2 separate regions of the Homo sapiens genome follow, and region 1 is linked to region 2. Evidence: fine-mapped QTL for protein levels in blood plasma. A gene starts in region 2. The other region holds a variant in brackets. All regions are shown on one strand. Distances are between the middles of the regions. Region 1 holds the start of PRSS57 (serine protease 57). Region 2 holds the start of FSTL3 (follistatin like 3).

Evidence for each region. PIP is the chance, under the fine-mapping model, that this variant and not a neighbour inherited with it causes the effect. The UK Biobank Pharma Proteomics Project read protein levels with antibody pairs (Olink). The fine-mapping took linkage between variants from a reference panel, not from the people measured, so its PIPs are less certain.
Region 1: its variant is fine-mapped to the plasma level of the FSTL3 protein (UK Biobank, PIP above 0.99).

The regions. Positions count from the first base shown.
Region 1 is chr19:684,595-699,294 of GRCh38, forward strand. It overlaps PRSS57 (serine protease 57), which reads right to left and starts at 10,858. Exons shown (of 5, transcript NM_001308209.2): 1 at 10,758-10,858; 2 at 10,220-10,373; 3 at 7,264-7,408; 4 at 2,331-2,594; 5 at 952-1,328. The coding sequence starts at 10,836. The coding sequence ends at 1,122. It also overlaps the pseudogene RPS2P52. The variant G/GAA (reference allele first, on the strand shown) is at 5,715.
Region 2 is chr19:666,035-679,876 of GRCh38, forward strand. FSTL3 (follistatin like 3) reads left to right here and starts at 10,358. Exons shown (of 5, transcript NM_005860.3): 1 at 10,358-10,492; 2 at 11,758-11,943. The coding sequence starts at 10,390. RefSeq lists an enhancer at 12,712-13,214 and a silencer at 13,669-13,842.

The DNA of each region.
Region 1 (14,700 bases), 19 kb after region 2:
AAAAATACAAAAAATTAGCCGGGTGTGGTGGTACATGCCTGTAGTCCCAGCTAGTTGGGAGGCTGAGGCAGGAGAATGGCTTGAACCCAGGGGCAGAGGTTGCAATGAGCCGAGATTGCGCCACTGCACTCCAGCCTGGTGACAGAGTGAGACGTCATCTTAAAAAAATAATAGGCCGGGCGCGGTGGCTCACGCCTGTAATCCCAGCACTCTGGGAGGCCGAGGTGGGTGGATCACGAGATCAGGAGATCGAGACCATCCTGGCTGACACGGTGAAACCCCGTTTCTACTAAAAATACAAAGAATTAGCCGGGTGTGGTGGCGGGCGCCTGTAGTCCCAGCTACTTGGGAGGCTGAAGCGGGAGAATGGTGTGAACCCGGGAGGCGGAACTTGCAGTGAGCCGAGATCGCACCACTGCACTCCAGCCTGGGGGACAGAGCGAGACTCCATCCAAAATAAAAATAAGTAAAGATAAAAAAATAAAATAATAATAAAGAAAATAAAATCTAAAAATAAAAAAATAATAACACAATAACAAACTGTGACAATAACATCACCTGGGACTTGCTGTGCACCCCGCGCTATTCTCTGGTTTTCAGAGGATGACCACGAGGCTTGATGTGTGGCCAGACCCTCTTGGGACTCCTCGGCGCGGCCGGTGCAAGCCCGCCCTGGTGTCCAGCAGCCCCCACGCCCTGCACAGGGAGCTCAGGGCTTCCTGGCCTCCGTTTCCCAGCGGACTCGCCTGCGGTGTGGTTAGGCGGCTGGAGGGAGGTGGAGGAACGGCATTCCAGGTGGGAGGCTGCAGGAGTGTGGGTTGCAGGGGCGCAGGGGTAGACCCAGAGGGGTTCACGGTGGGGGGCATGGGAAGGTGGAAAGGGGCTGCGGACCGAGCCGCGACACGAATGCCGGTGGACCCTGCAGCTGACCGCCCACGGGTGAGGCTGGAAGTCAGTTAACATTTTACTGGGTTTGCTTCTGCCCTTTGCATGTGGAATGGGTGTGCCCCACCGCTGCCCGTCCCACCCCAACCCTGAACATCAGGCTTCCCGTGGGGCCCAGCCACGGAACATTCCAGGCCTGGAGCGGCCATCTCATTTGCATGCCGCAAGGTTGTGGCTCAGGCGGCTTCTCCTGGGGGCCTGGTGGTCCCAGGCAGGGGGCCGGGCTGGGGACTGCTCCGCCGAACCACGTCCCAGATCCAGGCCACAAAGGCGGACACCTGCGTGTACACGTCGGGGGTCTTGGGGTCGCCGCACCAGAGGCCCGAGAAGGAAACGAGGCCGTGAGCCCGGTTCCTGCACACCAGGGGCCCTCCGGAGTCGGCCTGGAGTGAAAGGAGAGGTGAGGTCAGGGCCTCTGGGAGCTGCTGCAGGCACATCTCACCACGGCCCTCCCTGCCTCAGAACCCTCTGTGGCTCCCTACTGCTCTCCAAGGAAAAAGTAAATTCATTTCTCCCCTCCAGGCCCTGAGGACCCAGCCCCCACCCACTTCTCTGCCCTCCCCGCTGAGCCTCCTCAGTGCTCCACGGCCTTTGTATAGCCTGGAGACCTGTTCCTGCCCTGCGCTGGATGCTGCCTGTGTGAACATTCGAGTCTGCAGTGTTTTGGGCAGTGCACAACCTACACAGCTGTACGCGGCAGCCCTCTACTAACAGGTCTCTCTGCCTTGCGTGTGTTTCCTCAGATCTTCTAAGGATTCCTTCAAGTCTCAGCTCAAAGGTGCTCTCCTTGGAGAGGGCTCCCCGTATACTCACCCTAAAATCCCTCATCCTACCCTCCTGCCATCTAGAATCCGCTCTGATACCATCAACTGGATACTAATAGTGTAGCAGTTTTACAGATGGAGAAAAAGAGGCCCAGAGAAATCAAGTGACTTTTCCAAGGTCACGCATCGGGAAAGTGGACAGTCTCATTTCTCCTGGACTCGGGCTGCTGGGCTAAGTGTGTGTCCTGAACCAAGTCGCTCTCTTGCCTGCGGTAAAAGACCCTCCAGGGCCAGTGTCTCCCTTGGCACCTGGGGATTCGTTTATCTGGCAAGGTTTTAGGAGTGGGAGCTGCTTCCTCTCAATCTGTTACTACCCTCTACTGAATACTGCTTGTATAAATACACAAGTGCTTGGCTCTTTGTGCAGTGCGCAACCTGCACAGCTGAACATGGCAGCCCTGCATGACCCTTGCCAACTCCCTGCCTTCCCTGGGCCTCAGCTTCTCCGTCTGGTCCAACATCAATGGGACTCAGTTCCCAAGGCCCTTCCTGGCCCTGACCCTCTCTGTGGGCCTTGGTTTCCCCACACAGTAAGTGGGTGGAGCAGGGAGGGGATCTTACCGAGCAGAAGCCCCGTCTGTGGCTGTCCCCACTGCGGGTGCAGAGCATGGTAAGTGTCAGGTGGCCCTTCCAGGAGCTGTTGCAGACGTCCGGGTCCAGCACTCGGACCTTGGCCTCCATCAGTCCAGGCGGCAGCTCCTCAAAGTCAGACACGAAGCCCCAGCCAGCCACCCGGCACCGTGTCCCCGCTGTGGGGGGCCTGGCCCTTCTCCCTGGCGGCCTCAGCAGCCCCACTGCAGGGCCCAGGACAGCAGAGCCGTTCAGCTGCAGGGAGAGCATGAGTTCAGGCCACTGGGCTCCCTCCCCACCCCCGCTCCTGCCTCAGTTTATCCATGGGACCCCTGGTCCTGCCCTTGTGAAGCAAAATCAATGGCGGCCACCATGAGGCCGGGTCAGGAGGCCCCGTTCCTTCTGCCAACACAGGCCCCTACCCCTCAGGCCTCCAGGGTCACCGTCAGCTGCCCAAAGGGTCTTTCTGTTCTGTTCTTTTCTTTTTTTTGAGATGGAGTCTCGCTCTGTCGCCCAGGCTGGAGTGCAGTGGCACAATCTTGGCTCACTGCAACCTCCACCTGCCAGGTTCAACCGATTTCTCCTGCCTCAGCCTCCCAAGCAGCTGGGATTACAGGCGTGCACCACCACACCTGGCTAATTTTGGTATTTTAGTAGAGACGGGGTTTCACCCTGTTGGCCAGGCTGTTCTCAAACTCCTGACCTCAGGTGATCCACCCACCTCAGCCTCCCAAAGTGCTGGGATTACAGAGTGAGCCGCCGCGCCCAGCCTCAAAGAGTCTTTCAAACTCCATCTCCTTCCTTACTCTAAGCCCTCCCACGGCTCCCGATTGCCCTCAAGACAAAACCTCTTTGCTCACCAGCCAGGGCCTCTGAGGGCTCTCCAGCCTCAGCCTCCCCTTTGGCCAGGCAGGATGAATTTACAGCTACTCCCTGGGCCTGCCACACACCTCCCCTCACACCAGACCCCCAGCCTGAAACACTTTTCCTATTCAGCCATCTCAGCATGGATGCCACCTCTTCCAGGAAGTCTTCCCAGACTCCCAGGCTGGCACGTGAGTCTTCTCTGGGCTCCCTGCAGCCTGTTGAGGCCGGTTTACCCAGTGAAGACTGAGTGACACCCCGGGCTCTGTGTGGCCCAGCACCGGGCCTCTGGCCCTGGCCCTGGCAATTGGCACACAGCTGATGCTCAGTTAATGGGCCTGGGAAGGACGGCTCCAATCCCTGTCTCTGGTTCTCTGATTTGTGCGTCTTGGGTTCATTCCTGACATTCTTGATGTCTCGCTCAGCCTCAGTTTCCCCATCTGTGCGATGGCCTCTGGGTGAACCAGCGCTGGTTCCAGGCTTCAGGGTTTCACAGATGAGAAAAATTCACCCAAAAGCTTTGGCTACTGGCACTTGCTCCTCCTCCTTTTTTTTTTGTTTTTTTCAGAGTCTTGCTCTGTTGTCCAGGCTGGAATGCAGTGGCGCAATCTCGGCTCACGGCAACCTCCGCCTCCCGGGTTCAAGCGATTCTCCTGCCTCAGCCTCTGGAATTTAATTTTGGGATGCTGGGTAGAAGCGTCAGGGAAGGGGTCGTCCCTCGAGCAGGAGGGGGCCAGGCGGGTCTGCATGGATGCACCACGTGTGGGAGGAGCAGCTTCCCACCCGGAGGACTCCACCCAGGGACTTTTTTTTTTTTTTCAGATGGAGTCTCACTCTGTCACCCAGGCTGGAGTGCAGTGGCACGATCTCGGCTCACGGCAACCTCTGCCTCCCAGGTTCAAGTGATTCTCCTGCCTCAGCCTCCCGAGTAGCTGGGATGACTGGCACCCACCACCAGGCTCAGCTAATTTTTTTATTTTTAGTAGAGATGGGGTTTCACCACGTTGGCCAGTCTGGTTTCAAACTCCTGACCTCAAATGATCTACCCGCCTCGGCCTCCCAAAGTGCTGGGGTTACAGGTGTGAGCCACCACGCCCGGCCCCACACAGGGACTTTAAGCGTCTCCTCCACACAGGGCAGGGGCCCGAGAGGCACATTCATTCCATTTCAGCATAAACTTTGAGCGCCTGCTGTGTGCCATAAATGGCCATAAAGGTGATAAAAAATCCCTGCCCGTTAGGTTCAGAGGAAGCGGGAATGAGGAAGCGGGTGGTCCAGGGGTTAGCAGGTGACAAGCAGGTGACGACGGGGCCGGAAGGGTGGTCCAGGGGTTAGCAGGTGACGACGGTGCTAGAAGGGTGGTCCAGGGGTTAGCAGGTGACGACGGGGCTGGAAGGGTGGTCCACAGGTTAGCAGGTGACGACGGGGTGGTCCAGGGGTTAGCAGGAGATGACGGGGCCGGAAGGGTGGTCCAGGGGTTAGCAGGTGATGACGGGGCTGGAACAGGGTTGCAGGGAGGGGGTATGTGGTCCAGGGCGGCCTCCTGGGAAGGTAACATTTGAGCAAAGACTTGACAGGCGTGAGGGGAAAGGCTCGCGGTGTCTGGGGAACTGGTGCACTGGGTACAGCTGGTGCAGAGCTCGGAGCGGAGACTGTGCTGGGGATGGGATGGCCCATCCGGGAGGTCTGCTGGCCTCGAGTCAGAAAGGTGACAGGCATGGATTAGCAGGGCCTGTGGGCACCAGGAGGATTTGTCCTGCAGGAGGTGGGAGCCACTGGGGGGTCCAGGGCACAGGAGGAATGGGACCTGACGTCCAACTGTCTTTAAAACCTAAGTCAGGCCAGGCGCAGCAGCTCAGGTTTGTAATCCCAGCACTTTGCGGGGCTGAGGCAGGAGGATTGCCTGAGTCCAGGAGGTCAAGACCAGCCTGGGCAACATGGTGAAACCCCGTCTCTACTAAAAATATAAAAATTCGCCTGGCGCAGTGGTACACGCCCGTGATCCCGACACTTTGGGAGACCAAGGTGGGCGGATCACTTGAGGACCGGAGTTAAGACCAGCCTGGCCAACATGGTGAAATCCCATCTCTACTAAAAATACAAAAATTAGCCAGGTGTGGTGGTGGGTGCCTGTGATCCCAGCTACTCGGGAGGCCGAGGCAGGAGAATCGCTTGAACCCGGGAGATGGAGGTTGCAGTGAGCCCTGACTGTGCCACTTTACTCCAGCCCAGGTGCCAAAGTGAGACTCCGTCTCAAAAAATAGGCCAGGATTGGGAGGCAGAGGTGGGCGGATCACGAGGTCAAGAGATCGAGACCATCCTGGCAAACATGGTGAAACCCCATCTCTACTAAAAATACAAAAATTAGCCGGGCGTGGTGGCGGGCGCCTGTAATCCCAGCTACTCGGGGGGCTGAGGCAGGAGAATCGCTTGAACCTGGGAGGCAGAGGCTGCAGTGAGCCGAGATCGTGCTACTGCACTCCAGCCTGGGGACACAGGGAGATACTGTCT[G/GAA]AAAAAAAAAAAAATAGCCCAGGGCTGCTTCTCCTGGAAAACACTAAACGGCGGATGACGTCGGTGCAGTGGGGCGGCCCTGGGATGGGGAACGGCGCTGGCTTCCCCCGAGGCTTCGGCACTGGCTTCCGGGCTGGGGCCGCGGAGCTCACAGAGGCAAGACAGAGGATAAGGAGTAGACGCCTGTCACCAAGCTGGGCCGCCTGGTCAAGGACATAAAGATCATGTCCCTGGAGGAGATCTGTCTCTTCTCCCTGCCCATCAAGGAATCTGAGATCATTGACCTTTTCCTGAGGGCCTCTCTCCAGGACGAGGTTTTGGAGATTATGCCGGTGCAGAAGCAGATCCGCACCGGCCAGCGCACCAGGTTCGAGGCGTCTGTTCCCACCGGGGACTACAATGGCCACGTCGGTCTGGGTGTTGAGTGCTCCAAGGAGGTAGCCACTGCCATCATCGGGGCCGTCATCCTGGCCAAGCTCTCCGTTGTCCCCATGCACAGAGGCTACTGGGGGAACAAGATCGGCAAGCCCTACACCGTCCCTGGCAAGGTGACAGGCCGCTGCGGCTCTGCGCTGGTGTGCCTGATCCCCGTGTCCGGGGCGCTGGCATCGTCTGGGCGCCTGTGCTCAAGAAGCTGCTCATGATGGCTGGTATCGGTGACTGCTACACCTTAGCCAGGGGCTGCACTGCCACCCTGGGCCACTTTGCCAAGGCCGCCTCTGATATCCTCTCTAAGACCTACAGCTGCCTGACCCCTGACCTCTGTATTCCCCAAGTCTCTCTTTCAGGTATTCACTGGCCATCTTGTGAAGACTCACACCAGAGTCTCCGTGCAGACGCCCGGCTCCAGCTGTGGTTACAACATAGGGTTTTATACACGAAAAATAAAGTGAATTAAGCCTGGAAAAAAAAAATGGCCAGGCACGATGGCTCACGCCTGTAATCCCAACACTTTGGGAGGCTGAGGTGGGTGGATCACTGGGTCAGGAGTTCGAGACCAGCCTGGCCAACATAGTGAAACCCCATCTCTACTAAAAACACAAAAAACTAGCCAGGTCTGGTGGCGAGTGCCTGTAATCCCAGCTACTTGGGTGGCTGAGGCAGGAGAATCACTTGAGCCTGGGAGGCGGAGGTTACAGTGAGCCGAGATGGCGCCATTGCACTCCAGCCCCCGTGACAGTTCGAGACTCTGACTCAAAAAAAAAAAAAAAGAAAAGAAAAGAAAAGTAGGCCGGGCTCGGTGGCTCACGCTTGTAATCCCAGCCCTTTGGGAGGCCGAGGCAGGTGGATCATTTGAAGTCAGGAGCTTGAGACCAGCCTGGCCAACATGGTGAAACCCCGTCTCTACTAAAATACAAAAATTAGATGGGCTTGGTGGCGCGCACCTGTAATCCCATGTACTTGAGAGGCTGAGGCAGGAGAATCACTTGAACCCGGGAGGCTGAGGTTGCAGTGAGCCGAGATTGCGCCATTGCCCTCCAGCCCGAGCGACAGAGCGAGAGACTGTCTCAAAAACTAAACATACGTCAGATCCACCCCCGGGGCTCACCCGCAGCAGGCAGATGTCGTTGGCGTGGGTCATGGGGTGGTAGTCGGGGTGTGTGGTGAGAGCATCGATGCCAAACACCTGCTGGGTGGGCTCCGCAGTACTCAGGACGTGGGCGCCCAGCACCACCAGGCCAGTGCGGAGGTCTCTGCAGGGAGGAGGTGGTGGGTGAGACGGGGGTGAGGGCTGCCCGTCCTGGGCCTCGGTCCACTCATCTATGAAACGGAGGCCCAGGCCGGGCACGGTGGCTCACGCCTGTAATCCCAGCACTTTGGGAGGGTGAGGAGGGTGGATCACCTGAGGTCGGGAGTTCAAGACCAGCCTGATCAACATGGAGAAACCCCGTCTCTACTAAAAATACAAAATTAGCCAGGTGTGGTGGCACATGCCTGTCATCCCAGCTACTCGGGAGGCTGAGGCAGGAGAATTGCTTGAGCCTGGGAGGCGGAGGTTGCAGTGAGCTGAGATTGCACCATTGCACTCCAGCCTGAGCGACAGAACAAGACTCCGTCTCAAAAAAACAAAAAAAAAACAATTACTTTTGCATCAACTTAATATTCTTTTCCTTTTTTCTTTTTTTTTTTTTTTGAGACAGAGTCTCACTCTGTCCCCTAGGCTAGAGTGCAATCGAGGCTTACTGCAACCTCTGCCTCCTGGGTTCCAGTGATTCTCCTGCCTCAGCCCTCCAAGCAGCTAAGACTACAGGCGTGCGCCACCACTCCCAGCTAATTTTTGTATTTTCAGTAGAGACAGGGTTTCACCATGTTGGCCAGGCTGGTCTCGAACTCCTGACCTGAAGTGATCCACCTGCCTCGGCCTCCCAAAGTGCTGGGATTACAGGCGTGAGCCACGGTGCCCAGCCCCCAACTTAATATTATGATAATAAATTAATAATTATGTTTATTATTTTTCCTACCTCCAATATAGAATTAACTGCAATAGTTGTGGTATTAATTTGAATCATTATTATAAAAACATATTTAGAATGAAGATAATACTTATTATATTTATTATAAGTTCTATTTCAATTATAATATTAACTACAGTAATTTCAATATTCTCCTTTTTTTATTTCTTTAATTTTTTTTTTTGAGACGGAGTCTCGCTCTGTCACCCAGGCAAGATTGCAGTGGTGCAATCTTGGCTCTCTGCAAGCTCCACCTCCCGGGTTCACGCCATTCTCCTGCCTCAGCCTCCTGAATAGCTGGGACTACAGGCGCCCGCCACCATATCCGGCTAATTTTTTGTATTTTTTTTTAGTAGAGACAGGGTTTCACCGTGTTAGCCAGGACAGTCTCGATCTCCTGACCTCGTGATCCGCCTGCCTCGGCCTCCCAAAGTGCCGGGATTACAGGCGTGAGCCACCGCACCCGGCCTTTTTTTTTTTTTTTTTTTTGAGACAAGGTCTCACTCTGTCACCCAGGCCGCAGTGGTGTGATCACAGCTCACTGCAGCCTCGACCTCCCAGGCTCAAGCGATCCTCCCACAGCAGCCTTTCAAGTAGCTGGGACCACAGAAGCACAGCTCCGGTGCGGAGGACTCTGCGGGGAGGAGGGGGTGGGTGAGATGGGGGTGACGGCTGCCCGTCTGGGCCTCAGTCCACTCATCTATGAAATGGAGGCCCAGTAATCCATTTAATGCTCACGCCGGCCCCGTGATAATATTAGGTTGGTGCAAAAGTAATTGCACGAAAAAAATTAAATGGCAAAAACCACAATTAACTTTTTTTTTTCCGACAGAATCTCACTCTTTCCCCTAGGCTGGAGTGCAGTGGTGCCATCTCGGCTCACTGCCACCTCCACCTCCTGGGTTCAAGTGATTCTCCTACCTCAGCCTCCCGAGTAGCTGGGGATACGTACAGCCACTTGCTACCATGCCCAACTAATTTTCGTATTTTTTTTTTGAGACAGAGTCTCGCTCTGTCCCCCAGGCTGGAGTGCAGTGGCGCGATCTCGGCTCACTGAAAGCGCCGCCTCCCGGGTTCACGCCATTCTCCTGCCTCAGCCTCCTGGGTAGCTGGGACTACAGGCGCCTGCCACCACATCCGGCTAATTTTTTTGTATTTTTAGTAGAGATGGGGTTTCACTGTATTAGCCAGGATGGTCTCGATCTCCTGACCTCGTGATCCTCCTGCCTCGGCCTCCCAAAGTGCTGGGATTACAGGCATGAGCCACCGCACCCAGCCTAATTTTCGTATTTTTAGTAGAGACAGAGTTTCACCATGTTGGCCAGGCTGGTCTCATACTCCTGACCTCAAACAATCCACCGTGTCCCAACGTGAGGGGGACTGCAGGCTGGCGGGGGAGCTGGGGACACTGCAGCCCAGGACCAACCTATCCCGTGCCTGGTGGGGGCTCCTGCAGGAGGGGACCCACCCACCCTGGCCCCAATATACATTTTAATAGTTATTATAACAATATGTTTAAAACGAGGCAGGGCATGGCGGCTCACACCTGCAATCCCAGCACTTTGGGAGGCAGAGGCGGGTGGATCATTTGAAGTCAGGAGTTCGAGACCAGCCTGGCCAACATGGTGAAATCCAGTCTCTACTAAAAATGCAAAAATTAGCCAGGTGTGGTGGTGGGCGCCTGTGATCCCAGCTACTCGGGAAGCTGAGGCAGGAGAATCGCTTGAGCCCGGGAGGTGGAGGTTGCAGTGAGCCGAGATTGCACCGTTGCACTCCAGCCTGGGGAACCGAGACTGCCTCAAAAAAAAAAAAGAACATAGTGACAGTTACAGTAACAGAATATGTACTTGTTGCGCCTGTTGCTTCTTCTGTGCTTCTTTTGCCTCCCTGCCTTATCCTCCTGTTTTCCCTTTGTTGCCCTTTAAATCCAGCCCCTGCTGAGACTCCCCCTCCTGCAGGAGCCACGGCGCCCCCAGCTCCCCCACCAGCCTGGAGTCCCCCTCATGTCGGGATACGGTGTCCAGAAAGAAGGGGCCCGACAGGTGAGCTCACCTGTGGCTGAAGCAGTGGGCGGCCGAGACCACCCAGCGGGCTCGCAGCAGGAAGCCTCCGCAGTGATGTTGGCCCCCGAAGCGCACGGATGCCATGTAGGGCCTGGAGTGGGGGGTCACCTCGTGGCCCCCGATGATCTGGGCCCCCCAGGAGCCTGCTGGAGGGACGGCCTGAGTCAGGGACGAGGCGGGAGGAACGGATGACGGGGCTGGGGTCAGGGCAGGGGGAGAAGTAGCGGCCAAGACAGAGACAGGGGGTGAGATTAGAGACGGAGAGACCCAGAGAGCTGGAGACAGAGCCCAGACAAGCCCCCCAGATGCGCTGGGAGGGGCTCCCGAGCCCGGGAGATCCAGGGCTGGGCTGGGCAGAGACCCCGGCCGGATTTCCATCCATTTCCAGCAGAGGCAGCCACGGGGGCTCGGCAGATGGAGCAGGTGGAGCTCTCCCCAGGGTTCTCCCGGGACTGGGGGTTCCCGGGTGTGGCCCCCGTACGGGGACTTGGCGGGGGCCTGGGTGGGGATCCCGGGGGGCTCCTCACCGGGGGGCTTCACGGGCAGCATCAGGGCGGTGGCCACAGTCAGCAGAGGACGTCCCCAGCCCCTCAACCCGAGCCCCATGGCAGACGCAGGCTGGCGTCTCCCCGCAGAGGTCTTCGGGCCGTGGCTCCCACCCTCAGCCAACGGCCGGAAAGGGGGAGCCTGGCTGTGGCCTGTGGTCGGGAGGCCCCACCAGCAACGCCTGGAGCCCAGGCGGGCGTTTCTGAGAAATCGATGGTCTCAGGTGGTGGCTGGTAATAATCATGTTGATAATAATCATTGTCCCCTAGTCCGGAAACAGGGAGAGGAGGAGACAGCTCTGGGGCTGCAAGTGACCTCGGGAAGGCAATTGACCCTTCTGTGCCTCAGTTTACCCAGCCTCCACGTGGCCCAGCATGTGTGGGGAGCTTTCCGAGGAACCGAGGTCACAGCGGCACTCGAGACCCGCAGCTCGCCTCCGGCCCCCACCCCGCAAACCCCAGTCTTCCCATCTCCAAACCCAGGGCCGACCTCAGGGCTGTGGGGACAGCGAGGAAGGCCGGTCTCCTGGGAAGCTCTGATGATTTCTGCCTTTATTTTATTTTATTTTTATAGGTGGGGTTTTGCTATGTTGCCCAGGCTGGTCTCGAACTCCTGGGCTCCAGCGATCCTCCCTCCTCGGCCTTCCAAAGTGCTGAGATCACAGAAGACAGCCACTGCACCTGGCAGATTTCTGCCTTTATTCAGCAGTTATTGAGTGCCTAGTGTATACCAGACCTCATGCTAGGAGGTGAGGATGAGGCAGTGACCGCACCCCAGCCTGTAGCACTGACGTTCTGTGGGATCCGGAGTCCAGTGGGACATGGCTGTACATGGGGGTCTTCACCTTTTTTTTCTTTTCTTTTTTTTTTTGAGATGGAGTCTTGCTCTTGTTGCCCAGGCTAGAGTGGAATGGCACCATCTCGGCTCACCGCAACCTCTACCTCCCGGGTTCGAGTGATTCTCGTTCCTCAGCCTCCCGAGTAACTGGAACTACAGGCGCCCGCCACCACAGCCGGCTAATTTTGTTTCTGTATTTTTAGTAGAGACGGGGTTTCACCATATTAGCCAGGATGGTCTCGATCTCCTGACCTCATGATCCGCCCGCCTCGGCCTCCCAAAGTGCTGGGATTACAGGCATGAGCCACGGTGCCCGGCCTTTTTTTTTTTTTTTTTTTTTTTGAGAAGGAATCTTGCTCTTGTTGCCCAGGCTAGAGTGCAGTGGCGCGATCTTGGCTCACCGCAACCTCTGTCTCCTGAGTTCAAGGGATTCTCCTTCCTCAGCCTCCTGAGTAACTGGGATTACAGGTGCCCACCACCACGCCCCGCTAAATTTGTGTGTTTAGTAGAGACGGAGTTTCTCCATGTTGGTCAGGCTGGTCTCGAACTCCCGACCTCAGGTGATCCACCTGCCTCAGCCTCCCAAAGTGCTGGGATGACAGGCCTGAGCCACCGCGCCCAGCCCGGCAGGTCTTCACCTTTCAGTGGGAGCGTTCTTAGTGGCAAAGTTCAGGTCGTAAATTGCAGCTCACACAGCCGGGTGATGGCGTTCACGGCAGTGGCTAGCAGTGGGGTGCTCGTCAGCGCTTAATAATGAACAGGCTGGGGCCGGGTGCAGTGGCTCACGCCTATAATCCTAGCACTTTGGGAGGCCGAGGCAGGTGGATCACCTGAGGTCAGGAGTTCAAGACCAGCCTGGCCAACATAGTGAAACCCCGTCTCTACTTAAAGTACCAAAATTAGTCAGGCGTGGTGGCAGGTGCCTGTAATCCCAGCTACTTGGGAGGCTGAGGCAGGAGAATCGCTTGAACCGGGAGGTGGAGGTGGCAGTGAGCCAAGATTGCACCATTGCACTCCAGCCTGGGTGACAGAGCGAGACACCATCTCAAAAAAAAAAAAAAAAAAAAAGTCATCATTGAACGCTCCAGACCTGTGTTTTACCAAATGTAAAGTGTTCTCAATAAAGAATGAAGTGAAATGAAGCAACAGGAAATGCGTGGAAAGGAAGGTATGAAAAGGCCCCACAACGAACTCGGGCTCTGCGAGATGCGGGCGGCCTCTGGAAGCTAAAAAACGGCAGGAAACGAATTTTCTCCTGGAGCCTCCGGGAAAAGCCAGCCCTACCGATGCCCTGACGTTAGCCCAGAAGGGCCTGCAGGGGCTTCTGACCTCCAGCACTGCCAGAGAATAAATTGGTGCCATTTCGTTTATTATTATTATTATTATATTTTCTTGAGATGGAGTCTCGCTCTTTCGCCTAGGCCAGACTGCAGTGGTGCGATCTCGGCTCACTGCAAGCTCCGCCTCCTGGGTTCATGCCATTCTCCTTCCTCAGCCTCCCAAGTAGCTGGGACTACAGGTGCCCGCCACCACGCCCGGCTGATATTTTGTATTTTTAGTAGAGATGGGGTTTCACCACGTTAGCCAGGATGGTCTCAATCTCCTGACCTCGTGATCTGCCTGCCTCAGCCTTTCAAAGTGCTGGGATTACAGGTGTGAGCCACCGCGCCCAGCCTCATTTATTATGTATATATTTATTTTGAGACAGGGAGACAGGGTCTTGCTCTGCCGCCCACGCTGGAGTGCAGCAGTGCAATCAAAGCTCACTGCAGCCTCGACCTCCTAGGCTCAAGCCATCCTCCCACCTCAGCCTCCCAAGTAGCTGGGACCACAGGCACCTGCCACCACCAGGCCCGGCTCATTATTTCATTTTTTGTGGAGACGGGGTTTTGCCATGTTGCCCAGGCTGGTCTTGAACTCCTGGCCTCGAGCAATCCTCCAGCCTCGGCTTCCCGGAGTGCTGGGATTACAGGTGTGAGCCACCATGTCTGGCCCAAGTTGGTATCATTTTAAACCACTACGTTTCTGGGAATTCGTTACAGCAGCTGCAGGAAAGATTTTGGGAAATGGAAAGCTGTTTCCAGGGCCTGGGGACAGGTGGGACCCCAGCTCAGGGTCCGTGTACTTGGGGACCATTTCCTGCTCTGCTGTGGTCTACTGGACCGTCTGGCATCGCTGTGACCGCATGGGCCGTGCTCCATCAATATTGTTTTTTTGTGTGTGGGTGTTTTTTTTTTTTTTTTTAGATGGAGTCTCGATCTGTCGCCAGGCTGGAGTGCAGTGGCGTGATCTCAGCTCACTGCAACCTCAGTGTCCCGGGTTCAAGCGATTCTCCTGCCTCAGCCTCCCCAGTAGCTGGGACTACAGGCGTCTGCCCCCACGCCCGGCCAATTTTTTGTATTTTTAGTGGAGATGGGGTTTCACCATGTTGGCCAGGCTGGTCTTGAACTCCTGACCTCGTGATCCGCCCGCCTTGGCCTCCGAAAATGCTGGGATTACAGGCATGAGCCACTGCGCCCGGCCCTGTTTTTATCTTTTAGAGACAGGGTCTCCTTCTGTCGCCCAGGCTGGAGTGCAGTGGTTTGATCTCGGCTCACTGCATCCTCTGCCTCCTGAGTTCAAGCGATCCTACTGCCTTAGCCTCCCAAGTAGGTGGGATTACAGGTGCCTGCCACCACGCCCGGCTAATTTTTGTGTTTTTTTGTTTTGTTTTGTTTTATTTGTTTGGTAGAGATGGGTTTTGCCATATTGCCCAGGCTGGTCTCAAACTCCTGAGCTCAAGTGATCGGCCTGCCTCGGCCTCCCAAAGTGCTGGGATTACAGGCGTGAGCCATCGCACCCGGCTGTCCGTCAATATTGTCAAACGACTGGACAGCAGGCACTCTGGTCTCCACGGTCGTCGCGTCAGCACGAGTGGGTCCCCTGGACTTGCTCCTACCTCCCCTGCTGCCCTCCGTCGCGGAGCACTGAGGCAGAGACCTGGAAAACGTCCCCAGCTCCACGGGCGTTAGAAGGAGAATTGCCCGAAGCTGCAGGCGTGTGGAACTTTGTTCCCTCACGATGCTGTCCCTGTCCCGGTCGCTGATG
Region 2 (13,842 bases):
GGCGAGGTGGCTCACGCCTGAGACCAGGAGTTCAAAACCATCCTGAGCAACATAGTGAGACCCTGTCTCTACAAAAATAGAATTAGGCCGGGGACAGTGGCTCATGCCTGTAATCCCAGCACCTTGAGAGGCTGAGGCAGGAGGATCACTTGAGTCCAGGAGTTGAAGACCAGCCTGGGCTACATGGTGAAACCGTGTCTCTACTAAAAATACAAAAATTAGCCAGGTGTGGTGGCGGGCACCTGTGATCCCACCTACTCAGGAGGCTGAGACAGAAGGATCACTTGAGCAGGAGGCAGAGGTTGCAGTGAGCTGAGATCGGACCACTGCACTCCAGCCTGGGCCACAGATGGAGACCCCATCTTTTTTGTTTTGTTTTGTTTTGTTTTGTTTTGTTTGAGATGGGTCTCCCTCTGCCGCCCAGGCTGGAGTGCAGTGGCATGATCTGGGCTCACTGCAAATTCTGCCTCCTAGGATCAAGCGATTATCCTGGCTCAGCCTCCCAAGTAGCTGGGATTACAGGCATGTGCCACCACGCCCGGCTAATTTTTGTCCTTCTAGTAGAGACGGAGTTTCTCCATGTTAAGTAGGCTGGTCTCCAACTCCTGACCTCAGGTGATCCGCCCACCTCAGCCTCCCAAAGTGCTGGGATCACAGGCGTGAGGCTAATCGTTTTAAATTTTTATTTTGTAGAGATAGGATCTGGCTATGTTGCCCAGAGTGATCTCCAACTCCTGGGCTCACGGGATCCTCCCACCTTGGCCTCCCAAAGTGTGGGGATCACAGGTGTGAGCCAGAGTGCCCGGCCACCCCTTTATCCCAAACACACCAAAAAGCAGGCTGCTCTTCCCTGAAGGCAGTAGCACATTGATCAAATCGGCCAGTGGGCACTGACACTGCTGCACACAAATGCACACACTTGCACCCTGCCCCAGGCCCCACCGGCCACCCTGGTTCCACAGACGGCACCGTTTCTCCCATTTCCTCTCACCAGGGACCTCGACAGGTGTGGGCTTGGTTCCGTGAGCTCTCTTAGCCCCTTTTTCAATTCAGGATCCCGTCCCCGTGAACCCTGGGGGCCTCGGCAAACATGAGACGAGAGGACTCCTAAAGGAATGACACGCGCCACTCCCTCCGGGGCAGAGAGGTGTGTTGACAGCTCATTCTCACGTCCCAGGCAGACCAAGCCCAGGTGGACCACGTCCCAGGCAGACCAAGCCCAGGTGGACCACGTCCCAGGCAGACCAAGCCCAGGCGGACCACGTCCCAGGCGGACCACGTCCCAGGCGGACCACGTCCCAGGCGGACCAAGCCCAGGCGGACCACGTCCCAGGCGGACCACGTCCCAGGCGGACCAAGCCCAGGTGGACCACGTCCCAGGCGGACCACGTCCCAGGCGGACCAAGCCCAGGTGGACCACGTCCCAGGCGGACCATGTCCCAGGCAGACCACGTCCCAGGCAGACCAAGCCCAGGCGGACCACGTCCCAGGCAGACCACGTCCCAGGCGGACCAAGCCCAGGTGGACCACGTCCCAGGCAGACCAAGCCCAGGCAGACCACGTCCCAGGTAGACCTAGTGGTTGTGTATTCACTTCTCCCAACCCCCCTGGGAAGAAATAACTGCAGCTGGCCCCATTGCACCAATGAGGAAACTGAGGCCCAGGGAGGAAGCCGATTGCCTGAGGCGGCAGCTTTGGGACTGGACTGTGGCTGCCTCCTGAGGAAGGAAACAGTTCCTCCCTCCACCCTCATCCTGGCAGGGGTTGGGCCACCGTTGCTTCATCAAGTGTCGTGGAGCCTCCGCTCTGTGCCAGGAGCGGGGCCTGTGCCACAAACGTCTGCTGAAACCAGCCATCCACCCAACAGTATCGAGCACCATGATCGGAAGAGTAAAGGCCCCAAACTGGGCCAGGGGCGGTGGCTCATTCCCGTAATCCCAGCACTTTGGAAGGCTGAGGCGGGTGGATCATTTGAGGTCAGGAGTTCGAGGCTAGTCTGGCCAAAATGGTGAAACCCATCTCTACTAACAAAAAAAAAAAAAAAAAAAAAAAAATGGCCGGGTGCAGTGGCTCATGCCTGTAATCCCAGCACTTTGGAAGGCCGAGGTGGGTGGATCATCTGAAGTTGGGACTTCGAGACCAGCCTGACCAACATGGAGAAACCCTGTCTCTACTAAAAATACAAAGTTAACCAGGCATGGTAGCAGGCATCTGTAATCCCAGCTACTCGGGAGGCTGAGGCAGGGGAATCGCTTGAATCTGGGAGGCAGAAGTTGCAGTGAGCCAAGATCTTGCCATTTCACTCCTGCCTAGGCAACAAGAGCAAAACTCCATCTTGTTAAAAAAAAAAAACTAGCCGGGCATGGTGGTGCCTGCCTGTAATCCCAGGTACTCGGGAGGCTGAGGCATGAAAATCACTTGAACCCGGGAGCAGAGGTTGCAGTAAGCTGAGATTGCACCACTCCACTCCAGCCTGAGAGACAGAGTGAGTGAGAGACTTCACCTCAAAATAAATAAATAAAGTCCCCAAACACACTTGATTTTAGCCCAGCAAGACTCATGTCTGTTGCGGGAAGTCAGGGACCCCGAACGGAGGGACCGCCTGGAGCTGTGGCAGAGGAACATAAATTGTGAAGATTTCATTTTAATATGGACATTTATCAGTTCCCAAATTAATACTTTTATAATTTCTTACGCCTGTCTTACTCTCATCTCTTAATCCTGTTATCTTCGTAAGCTGAGGATGTATGTCACCTCAGGACCACCGTGATAATTGTGTTAACTGTACAAATTGATTGTAAAACGTGTGTTTGAACAATATGAAATCAGTGCACCTTGAGAAAAAACAGAATAACAGCGATTTTAGGGAACAAGGGAAGACAACCATAAGGTCTGACTGCCTGCAGGGTCAGGCAAAAAAAGCCATATTTTTCTTCTTGCAGAGAGCCTATAAAAGGACATGCAAGTAGGGAGGATATCGCTAAATTCTTTTCCTAGCAAGCAATATTAATATTAATACCCTGGGAAAGGAATGCATTCCTGGGGAGAGGTCTATAAACAGCTGCTCTGGGAATGTCTGTCTTACGTGGTTGAGATAAGGACTGAGATACGCCCTGATCTCCTGCAGTACCCTCAGGCTTACTACGGTGGGGAAAAACTCCACCCTGGTGAATTTGTGGTCAGACGTTTCCCTATTTTTTGTTCAAGATGTTTATCAAGATAATACGTGCACCGCTGAACATGGACCCTTATCAGTAGTTCTGTGTTGCCTTTTCTCCTGTTCCCTCAGAAGCAAGTGATCTTTGTTCTGTTTTTTGCCCTTTGAAGCATGAGCTCTACTCCATGTTCTCACACCCCCTCCCCTCTTGAAACCCTTAATAAAAAACTTGCTGGTTTAAGGCTCAGGGGGCAGCACGATCCTACCGACATGCGACGTCACCCCCCGGCGGCCCAGCTGTAAAATTCCTCTCTTTGTACTCTTCCTCTTTATTTCTCAGCCAGCCGACACTTATGGAAAATAGAAAGAATTTATATTGAAATATGGGGGGAATGGGTCCCCCCGATACATGTCAGATTTCTTTTATTTATTTATTTATTTATTTATTTATTTATTTATTGAGATGGAGTCTCACTCTGTCGCCCAGGCTGGAGTGCAGTGGTGCCATCTCGGCTCACTGCAAGCTCCGCCTCCCGGGTTCACGCCATTCTCCTGCCTCAGCCTCCCGAGTAGCTGGGACTACAGGCGCCCGCCACCATGCCCGGCTAATTTTTTGCATTTTTAGTAGAGACGGGGTTTCACCGTGTTAGCCAGGATGGTCACGATCTCCTGACCTCGTGATCCACCCGCCTCCACCTCCCGAAGTGCTGGGATTACAGGCGTGAGCCACCTCACCTGGCCTTATTTATTTATTTTTTTTGAGACGGGGGTCTCGCTCTGTTGTCCAGGCTGGAGTGCAGTGGTGCGAACTCGGCTCACCAAAACCTCTGCCCTCCAGGTTCGAGCAATTCTCCTGCCTGAGCCTCCTGAGTGGCTGGGACTACAGGCACCCGGCACCACACCCAGCTAATTTTTGTATTTTTAATAGAGATGGGGTTTCACCATGTTGGCCAGACTGGTCTCAAACTCCTGACCTTAAGTGATCTGCCTACCTCAGCCTCCCAAAGTGCAGGAATTACAGGCGTGAGCCACTGCGCCCAGCTGTTTTGTTTTTTGAGATGAAGTCTCACTGTCACCCAGGCTGGAGTGCAGTGGCGCGATCTTGGCTCACTGCAGCCTCCGCTTCCTGGGTTCAAGTGATTCTCCTGCTTCAGCTTCCCGAGTAGCTGGGATTACAGGAGTGTGCCACCTCGCCCGGCTAATTTTTTTTGTATTTTTAGTAGAGACGGGGTTTCACCATGTTGGCCAGGCTGGTCTCAAACTCCTGACCTCAAATGATCTGCCCGCCGCAGCCTCCCAAAGTGCTGGGATTACAGATGTGAGCCGTGGCACTTGGCCAGTGGGGTTGCTTTAGGGCCCAGCTCACACCGCACCCGGCTGATGGGGTTGTTTTAGGGCCCAGCTCACTTCCCAGTGTTCCCACACCGCCCACCAGGCCAGGCCTTCAGGCCTGAGCCATGTTATCAGCATCACAGGCTCCGGAGTCCAGCAAGTCTTTGCCTCCTGGAGCCCAGGGGTTGGCAAGTTCTAGCTCAGAGGCTGCAGACAATAGACAGTAAGCCAATGCCAAGTATCTTTGGGCTCAGGAAGGTGGGACCGGGTGTCCCTGACTGTTCTGTACCAAGCCACAACCCGCTTCCCATCCTGGAGGCCGAAGGTGGTACCGCAGGGTGAGCTCCCTAGAGCCCCACAGAACACGCTGCTCTGGGTCCTAAAGGCTCTCCTTGCATGAATGCAAACCTGCTGACTACAAAGATGGTTATTATTATCAGCTCCAAGGTACAGAAACTCGGTTTAAACTGGCTTCATCTCCCTGCGGAGGAGGAGTTCAGGCACAGCTGGATCCAGGGACCTCCAATGTCACTGGGAATTGTTGCTGTCCCCTTTGGCTCTGTGGCCCACGGGGCTGGCCTCTCCCTAGCCATCAGAAAGAGCCACCTGCAATTTCAGGCTCACACCTCTCCAGCCCCAGCAGGAAGCAGGTGTCCCTGTCCCTCTCCCAGCAAAATTCCAGGGCCGTTGGCCAGGCGTGGTGGCTCACACCTGTAATCCCCGCACTTTGGGAGGCCGAGGCCGGCGGATCATGAGGTCAGGAGTTCGAGACCAGCCTGGCCAATATGGTGAAACCCTGTCTCTACTAAAAATACAAAAATTAGCCAGGCGTGGTGGTGGGCGCCTATAGTCCCAGCTGCTCGGGAGGCTGAGGCAGGAGAATCGCTTGAACCTGGGAGGCAGAGGTTGCAGTGAGCTGAGATCACGCCACTGCACTCCAGCCTGGGCAACAGAGCAAGACTCCATCTTAAAAAAAAAAAAAAATTCCAGGACTGACTCGTCCTGGTGGTTTTGTGTTTTTTTTGAGACAGAGTCTCACTCTGTCACCCGGGCTGGAGTGCAGTAGTGGGAGCAGAAAGGGGGAACCAGCCCCAGGCTGGCCCTCGTCGTGTGGTCCATGGGAGGCACAGGGGTCCTGGAAGCTTCTGAACCTGGTGCTGACCCTAGTCCTGACTCTGCAGGTCTGTGTGACTCCAAGAAAATCACTTCCCACCCTCCAACCTCATCCCTATAAATGGGGCGCCTGCCTCACAGCCTCCCAGCAAGCAGCAAAGGGGACTCACCATGGTCCCGTTCTGCACGAGCACCCATTGACTGGGTAATTAACAGGAATCTATGCACGCCATGGCCCTACTGTGCGCCTGGCACTGTCCACATCCCACCTGGAACCTCTAACACTGGGGTCTGTGCCCATGTTACAGATAAGAAAACAGGCATAGGCTGGGCACGGTGGTTCACGCCTGTAATCCCAGCAATTTGGGAGGCCAAGGCAGCTGGATCGCCAGAGGTCAGGAGTTCGAGACCAGCCTGGCCAACATGGTGAAACCCATCTCTACTAAAAATACAAAAAATTAGCTGGGTCTGCTGGTGCATGCCTGTAATTCCAGCTACTCAGGAGGCTGAGGCAAGAGAATTGCTTAAACCCGGGAGGCAGAGGTTGCAGTGAGCCGAGATTGCGCCACTGCACTCCAGCCTTGGCAACAAGAGCGAAACTCTGTCTCAAAAAAAAAAAAAAAGAAAGAAAAAGAAAACAGGCCTAGAAGGGTCCCAGGGCCTGGCACACAGTGGGCACCCACGGCTGCTATAACAAATTTGCACAAACTGCCTGGCTTAAAGCAACACACGGGCTGGGCGCAGTGTCTCATGCCTGTAATCCCAGCACTTTGTGAGGCCAAGATGGGCAGATCACCTGAGGTCAGGAGTTTGAGACCAGCCTGACCAACATGGCAAAATCCCGTCACTGCAAAAAAAAAAAAAAAAAGTAGCCGGGTGTGGTGGGAGGCGCCTGTAATCCCACTTAGTCTGGAGGCTGAGGTTGCAGTGAGCCGAGATCGCACCTCTGCACTCCAGCCTGGACAACAGAGTGAGGCCCTGTCTCAAAAAAATAAAAATGGCCAGGCATGGTGGCTCACACCTGTAACCCCAGCACTTTGGGAGGCCAAGGCGGGTGAATCACTGAGGTCAGGAGTTCAAGACCAGCCTGGCCAACATGGCGAAACCGCGTCTCTACTAAGAATACAAAAATTAGCCAGTTGTGGTGGCAGGTGCCTACAATCCCAGCTACTCGTGAGGCTGACGCAGAAGGATTGCTTGAACCCGGGGGCGGAGGTTGCAGTGAGCCGAGATCGCGCCATTGCACTCCAGCCTAAGCAACAGAACGAGACTACGTCTCAAAAAAAAAAAAAAAAAAGTTCCACACGGGTCTGGCTGGGAGAAGATCGAGGTGTTGGCAGAGCTGCATTCCTTCTGGCAGCTCCAGGAGAGAATCTGTTCCGCGCCTTTCCAGGCTCCTAGAGGCCGCCCACATTCCCTGGCTTGAGCCCCCTTCCTCCATCTCCAAATCCCGCAATGGCAGCCAAGTCCTTCTCTTATCCTGTCTCTAACCATAGAGGGCAGGCGTCTCCTTTTTTTTTTTTTTTTTTTTGAGACAGAGTCTCGCTCTGTCACCCAGGCTGCAGTGCAGTGGCACGATCTCGGGTCACTTCAACCTCTGCCTCCCAGGTTCAAGTGATTCTCCTGCCTCAGCCTCCCAAGTAGCTGGGATTACAGGTGCACAATACCAGGCCCACCTAATTTTTTTGTATTTTTAGTAGAGACGGGGTTTTACCATGTTGGCCAGGCTAGTCTCGAACTCCTGACTTCAAGTGATCCTCCTGCCTCGGCCTCCCAAAGTGCTGGGATTACAGGCGCACACCACCAGGCCCACCTAATTTTTTTGTATTTTTAGTAGAGACAGGGTTTTACCATGTTGGCCAGGCTAGTCTCGAACTCCTGACCTCAAGTGATCTGCCTGCCTCGGCCTCCTAATGTGTTGGAGGTTCACAGGTGTGAACCTAATGTGTTGGTGGTTCACAGGTGTGAACCACCGCGCCCGGCCAGGCATCTCCTCTTCTACGGACCCTTCCAGGACAGTGGGCCATCCGTATAACCCAGGATGAACCCCTGTGTGAAAGCCCTCAACTCAGTCCCATCTGCAGAGCCCCTTTGGCCAGGGAGGGTGGGACACCCACGGGTTCTAGGGATGAGGGCCCCATGGTCTCTGGGACCGCCGTTCTGCTGACCACCCCCCACTGCTCTCCCCCTCACTCACAGCACAAGCGTCTGTTTCCAGCGCACACCCCTGCCGCTCCGTCTGACGTTCGAGTCTCAACCTCAACGTCTCTTTCCTCTGGGAAGCCTTCCTCAGTCTCCCCCAGGCCCGGGTCAGGCCTGGGGCACCTTTGCCATCTGGGCATCCTCCGCCACAGAACAACACTGGATTGTCACTGTCTGTTTACCTGTCAGGATGTACCTGGAGGGAGACAGAAGCCTGGGGGGTGAGCAGAGGCCACGAGGAGCCACGGTGGGTGTCTGAGCCAGGGAGAAGTGTTATGGCAGCTGGGGTAGGAAGTGGGCCGCAGGGGCCAGGCTGCGGGCTGGAAGTCCTAGGATGAGCCTCGGGCCTGGATAGGGTGGGGAGAGGGGCAGAGCCGGGAGAGGGGAGGTCATCACTGGGGTCTCAGGAGGAGGCGGCGCTCTGGAAAGGGTCAGTGACCTGTTAGAGGTCACCCTGCACAGAGCCTCTGGGTTAGGGAAGACAGAGCCGGGAGCAGGAGGCCACTGGCAGCTGGCCTCGGTTTCCCCGGAGAGGGCCGGAACCCACGCCAGCCAGACAATGACCCTTTGATTCGCACAGCCCAGGCCGGAGTGGCCAAGCCACGGCGGGGTCAGGTCTTGGCCAAGGTCACACTGTCCAGCCCCCGCACATCCTCAGTGAGAACACAGGGTCCCATCCCTGCCCCACTCCCCAATCCCGGGAGAGTCCCGGGGGAATGCCAGAGGCCAAGGCCAGGTCGAGACGGCGGGGTGTCCCCCGTCAGTGAGAACACAGGGTCCTGTGCCTGCCCCACTCCCCAAGCCGGGGAGATTCCCGGGGGAAATGCCAGAGGCCAAGGCCAGGTCGAGACGGCGGGGTGTCCCCCCTCAGTGAGAACACAGGGTCCCGTCCCTGCCCTGCTCCCCAAGCCGGGGAGATTCCCGGGGGAAATGCCAGAGGCCAAGGCCAGGTCGAGACGGCGGGGTGTCCCCCCTCAGTGAGAATACAGGGTCCCGTCCCTGCCCTGCTCCCCAAGCCGGGGAGATTCCCGGGGGAAATGCCAGAGGCCAAGGCCAGGTCAAGACGGCGGGGTGTCCCCCCTCAGTGCCACTAAGGCAGAACTTGGCCCCTGGCCACTGGCTGCTGGGGGACACAGGCTGGGCAGCTAAGGTGGAGGAAAGGGTACAGGTGTGTCTTCTGTGGGCACAGATCTCACTCAGGCCAGAGAAGGGGCTGTGCCGTGGGGCTGCTGGACACGTCCGTTTCCACCTGCGGGGTGGGCAATGCCGGCACAGCGAGTGGCCAGACACAGGCATGCCCAGCAGACACCCAACCGCTCTCCACCACCTCAACCTTCTGTATTTTCCTGAAAGCATTTACCACTCCTTGAAGTTATAGATTAATTTGTCTCTGCATTTTGTTGTCCAAACCAGGAGCTCGGTGAGGGTGTGATGGGGTCTGCCTTGGTCACCGTGGCACCCCAGCACCCCGCAGGGTCCCTCTGGCCAAAAGAGATGTTCACTGATGCCCTAGAAGCAGGAACAGAGGGGCTCCCCTGCGCTCGCCAAGGGCGCCTGACAAATCTGGAGGCCCCCATGACAGAATCAGCTCCAGAGTAGGAAATGTGTCTGGCTGCACGAAAGCCCCCTCGGGCGCAGCGCCTCCAGGCCCACGCAGATGTCGCTGTCATACATTGTTGGAAACGCCTCTGCTGGAAACAGTGTTTGCTGAATCTTGGAGGGAGAGGAAAAAACCTAGTAAACATTCTTGTTGAGGTGATCTGGGGGAATGTCTGCAAAGGCTTGGAGGGCTGATGGGGCAGAGCTGCCCAGGGGCCCAGGACAAAGGCCAGGCGTGCGCGCGCACACACACACACACACACACACACACACGCAGTGGCCTCCCTGGGGGCCGTGGCTGGGCGAGGCCTGCTGTTGTCCGAGATGCTGGAAGGAGCTGTGTCTCTGGGTCTGTCCCGGCCGCACCCCGTTCTGTCCCACACCCAACCACTCCCCACCCACAGGCCGGCTCCAGCGGCCAGGTGGACGGGTGCGCGGCCCGCGCTGTGAGCAGGGAACCATATCCAGCTGAGGTTTTGGGTGTGTGGGGCGGGTCGGGAACAAGGAGGCCGGGTTGGGGGGCTCAGACCACACTTGGACCATGAAAGTGACCACATGCAAATCACAGAAACGGGATGCAGGGATCCACAGACGTGCTCCTCTTGGGTCCCCGTTACCTCACCGCCACCCCTGAAACTGAAGACCCCCAAACCCACTTTAATTCCTGGAGACGGCCCCTCGATCCACCCAAAAGGCTGCCACCACCTCGAACCCACACCCCTGTCCCGGTTCCGCCCTGGGTCCAGCCACATCTCCCCAAATGCATTCTCTGGCTCCGGAAGGGGACCCGGGCGCTCGCCCCCAACTGCCCCCCGCAGCGGCCGGGCCCGGCGCCTGCCCACCCCGCGCGGGACACGGCCTCGCCCCCGCCACTCCCGCGCCGCGCCCCGCCCCGCGCCCCGCCCCGCCCGCGGCCCGCGGGACCTTTATAGGGAGCGCCGGCCGCGCGCTGGGAAGTCGGTGCCGCTGCCGTCTCTGCGTTCGCCATGCGTCCCGGGGCGCCAGGGCCACTCTGGCCTCTGCCCTGGGGGGCCCTGGCTTGGGCCGTGGGCTTCGTGAGCTCCATGGGCTCGGGGAACCCCGCGCCCGGTGAGTGGGGCGGCCAGAGGGGCGGGCGGGGCGGGCCACCCACGTGGGGCTGCGCGGAATGCGGCCGGGGGGACGTCGGGGGGCGCGGCGGCGGCGGCGGGGGCGAGGGCGGTGTCCGGCGCAAGCTGGAGCCGGGAAGGTCTGAAGGAGGGTCACCAAGAGGTCAGCAGAGCAGAGGTTTCTAATCACAATGACCGCTGACATTTATTGAGCGCTTAGTGTCTACCTCTCCCCTCCCTGAACCTGTGCCATCCCGATAGTGCCGGAGCTCTCTTCATCTCCGTCTTCCAGATGGGGAAACTGAGGCTCAGGGTCACACAGCCTGTAGCAGGCAAAGCCAGGGTTCTAGCCGCGACCGTCCGGGTCGGTCCTGGTGCCGAGAGGTAGTGCTGGGTGTCGGGAGCCAGGCCCTCCAGCTGGGGCTGAGAGCTTTCCCGGGTCCTGGGTAGACGGGGCATGGAGTCTCACACCTGGGACTTGCCGGGAGGTGCCAGGCAGGAGACGGCCCCACTCCTGGCCTCAGTTTCCCCTCCTATGATGGGTGCCAAGGTGCTGCGTTCCACAAGCTGGTCCCTGGCAGTGTCTGTGAACCAGCAAGCGCTCTGGGATGGGGGCTGTGGCCGTTCCTGCCCCCAGGGACGGGGGAAGAAATGGGGGGCTCTCTGGCTCCCCACCCCCCATCCCTGCAGCCCCACCCCACCCCAGCCCTGCGCCAAAGGGAGAGCAGAGCCCCCTCCCCGAAGGCCACGTCCCTGGGGAGACAGTGAGCTCATGCAAGGGGAATGTTCCCAAGTTGGAGTGAGTAAGAGGCGGGCCAGGCGGTGGGGGGGCTGCCAGGCGCGGGGCTCCGCGTGCCCTCGCCCTCGGGTGCTGTCTAGACAGAGGGCAGAGGCGGGAGAAGCGGCTCCAGGGCCTGCTGACCCTGACATGCCCAGTGCCTGGTGTTTGGTGGTGTTTGAGGGGTTGGGCAGGGTGCCAGCCCCTGGCCTGGGGGCTTGGAGGGTACGGGAAGGGACCTCCTGGGGTGGGTGGGGGTTGGTGGTGAGGCTGTGGGGGGGGGCACGTGGAGCTCAGAGGGGAGGAGACATTTCCAGGGTTCTGGAGCCAGGGTGGGGACACCCATGTGGTTTTCTGCCCCTTCTTCCTGGGTGGGGGTAGATCATTCCGTGCGTAACTACTCAGCACCACCTGCATGCATCTGTGGGCGGGCCAGAAGCTGGGTGTCAGGAGTGGCCCAGGAGAGCACCCCGTTCCCCGGCCCGCAGGTGGTGTTTGCTGGCTCCAGCAGGGCCAGGAGGCCACCTGCAGCCTGGTGCTCCAGACTGATGTCACCCGGGCCGAGTGCTGTGCCTCCGGCAACATTGACACCGCCTGGTCCAACCTCACCCACCCGGGGAACAAGATCAACCTCCTCGGCTTCTTGGGCCTTGTCCACTGCCTTCCCTGCAAAGGTGAGACCTCAGGCCAGAAGCAGGGCAGACGTCTCAGCTCAGGACCAGCCACAAACAGTCATGGTGGTCGAGGGCCGAACGTCCAGGGACTGAGCCCGTCACAGGGGTATGTAGGAGGCTGCAGGGGGATCCCAGCCTCAGAGAGGGACTGGGGGGACTTCCCGGTTCCCAGGCTCCAGCCTCTTGCAGCTCAGGACTCAGGAAGAGACCACGTGGCTCCAGCCTTTGCTGGGGCTGAGCTCTCTGCCTGGGTGGCTCTTCCCACCTGGTCGATAAATGTCTGGCTTGCACCTAGCTCCTGGGAAGGTGGGTTTGCCATTCTGGCCTGTGACCCCAAATGTCCACACCAGGGACCTTCACTGCAGACTCCAGGGTCTGCGGTGGGGTTACAGCTGCATGTTTAACAAGCATTTGCCTCGGGACCCTGTTTTGAGAGGATGCCTCCCACATCAGACTAGGGGCTCTTGGTTGGCGAGTGGCACAGAACGAATGAATAAGATTCTCCGCACTGGAGGATGATGGTTTTTTTTTTTTTTTTTTTTTTTTTTCCTGAGATGGAGCCTCGCTCTGTCACCCAGGCTGGAGTGCAGTGGTGCGATTTTGGCTCACTGCAACTTCGGCCTCCGAGGTTCAGGTGATTCTCTTTCCTCGGCCTCCCCAGGGGCTGGGACTGCAGGCGCGCGCCACCACACCTGGCTAATTTTTATGTTTTTGGTAGAGACAGGGTTTCACCACATTGGCCAGGCTGGTCTCAAACTCCTGACCTCAAGTGATCTGCCAGCCTTGGCCTCCCAAAGTGCTGGGATTACAGGCGTGAGCCACCATGCCTGGCCTGTTGGGGCACATCTTGAAGGAGGTGGGCATTAGAGCTGGGGTGTTGGGGGATGTCTAGGAGTTTGCCAGATGGGGCCGGTATGGGAGAGTGGATCAGGAGAGAACATGGCTTGAGGTTAGGTCCTGGTGGGTGGGGTCAGGCAGAGGAGCCAAGGGGAGGCTGAAGCTGAGGGCTGCAGACCCGAAGGCCAGGCTGAGGAACTCTGCTGGCCTCTGAGATGTGATTAATCCCAGATCAGCCTGGCTGGGTGGTCCTGAACTCACTGCCACATACCCCTGCTCCCTCCAGACCCCCCTCTGGCTTCTGGGAGAAGGACAGTCTTCAAAAAGTGCCTGGCCTGGGCATGAGACGGCCCAGGACCCCCCACCCCCAACCTCATCTGGCCCTGGGGACGGAACTCAGGCCCCCTTCCGTTCTCGCTCGCATAAAAGCCACCCTGGCCGAGCATTTCCAGATGTGCCTGTGAGCCGCTGTGCCGGGGCCGCCCAGGTGCGGCCCACATGCCCTGCAAGGGCTGCGTGGCGGGCGCTGGCCATCCCCTAAGGAGTGCCGCACTGCCTTGGAAGTGGGGCTCCCTCGTCAGCCCCACTTTACACACAGAGAAACTGAGGCTGGCACATAAACTCAACAGCTGTGTTCAGAGGCCCTACCAGACCCCCAGATAACAGAAAGGGGGTTGGTCATCTGGGTCCTGGCTGCAGCTTTCAAACTGAGGTGCTTGGGCCCCTGCACTCATAGCTGCGACCCGGCCTCAGTTTCCCCATCTGTAAAATGATGACTTGGGAAGATGCGATAAGCCTAGGAGGCGATGAGCATTCACATTGAAAGCGGGGGCGGGGACCCCAGAGAGAGCTTCCCTAGCAGGACCTCAATATCCCTGTCTGAGCAGCGGGGCTGCGGGGCAGCTCCTGGTTCAGAGGCCTAGGGCTGTGGGGGGCCCCCTCCCCTGGAATCGCTCCCCAGGCCAGGAGGGCCGTCCAGCGCCCCGCCCTCCCCGACGCCTCCTGGGGGAAGGTCCTGGCAGCCCCAGACTCGCGCCTGGCAAGGGCGGAACACCCCAGGCT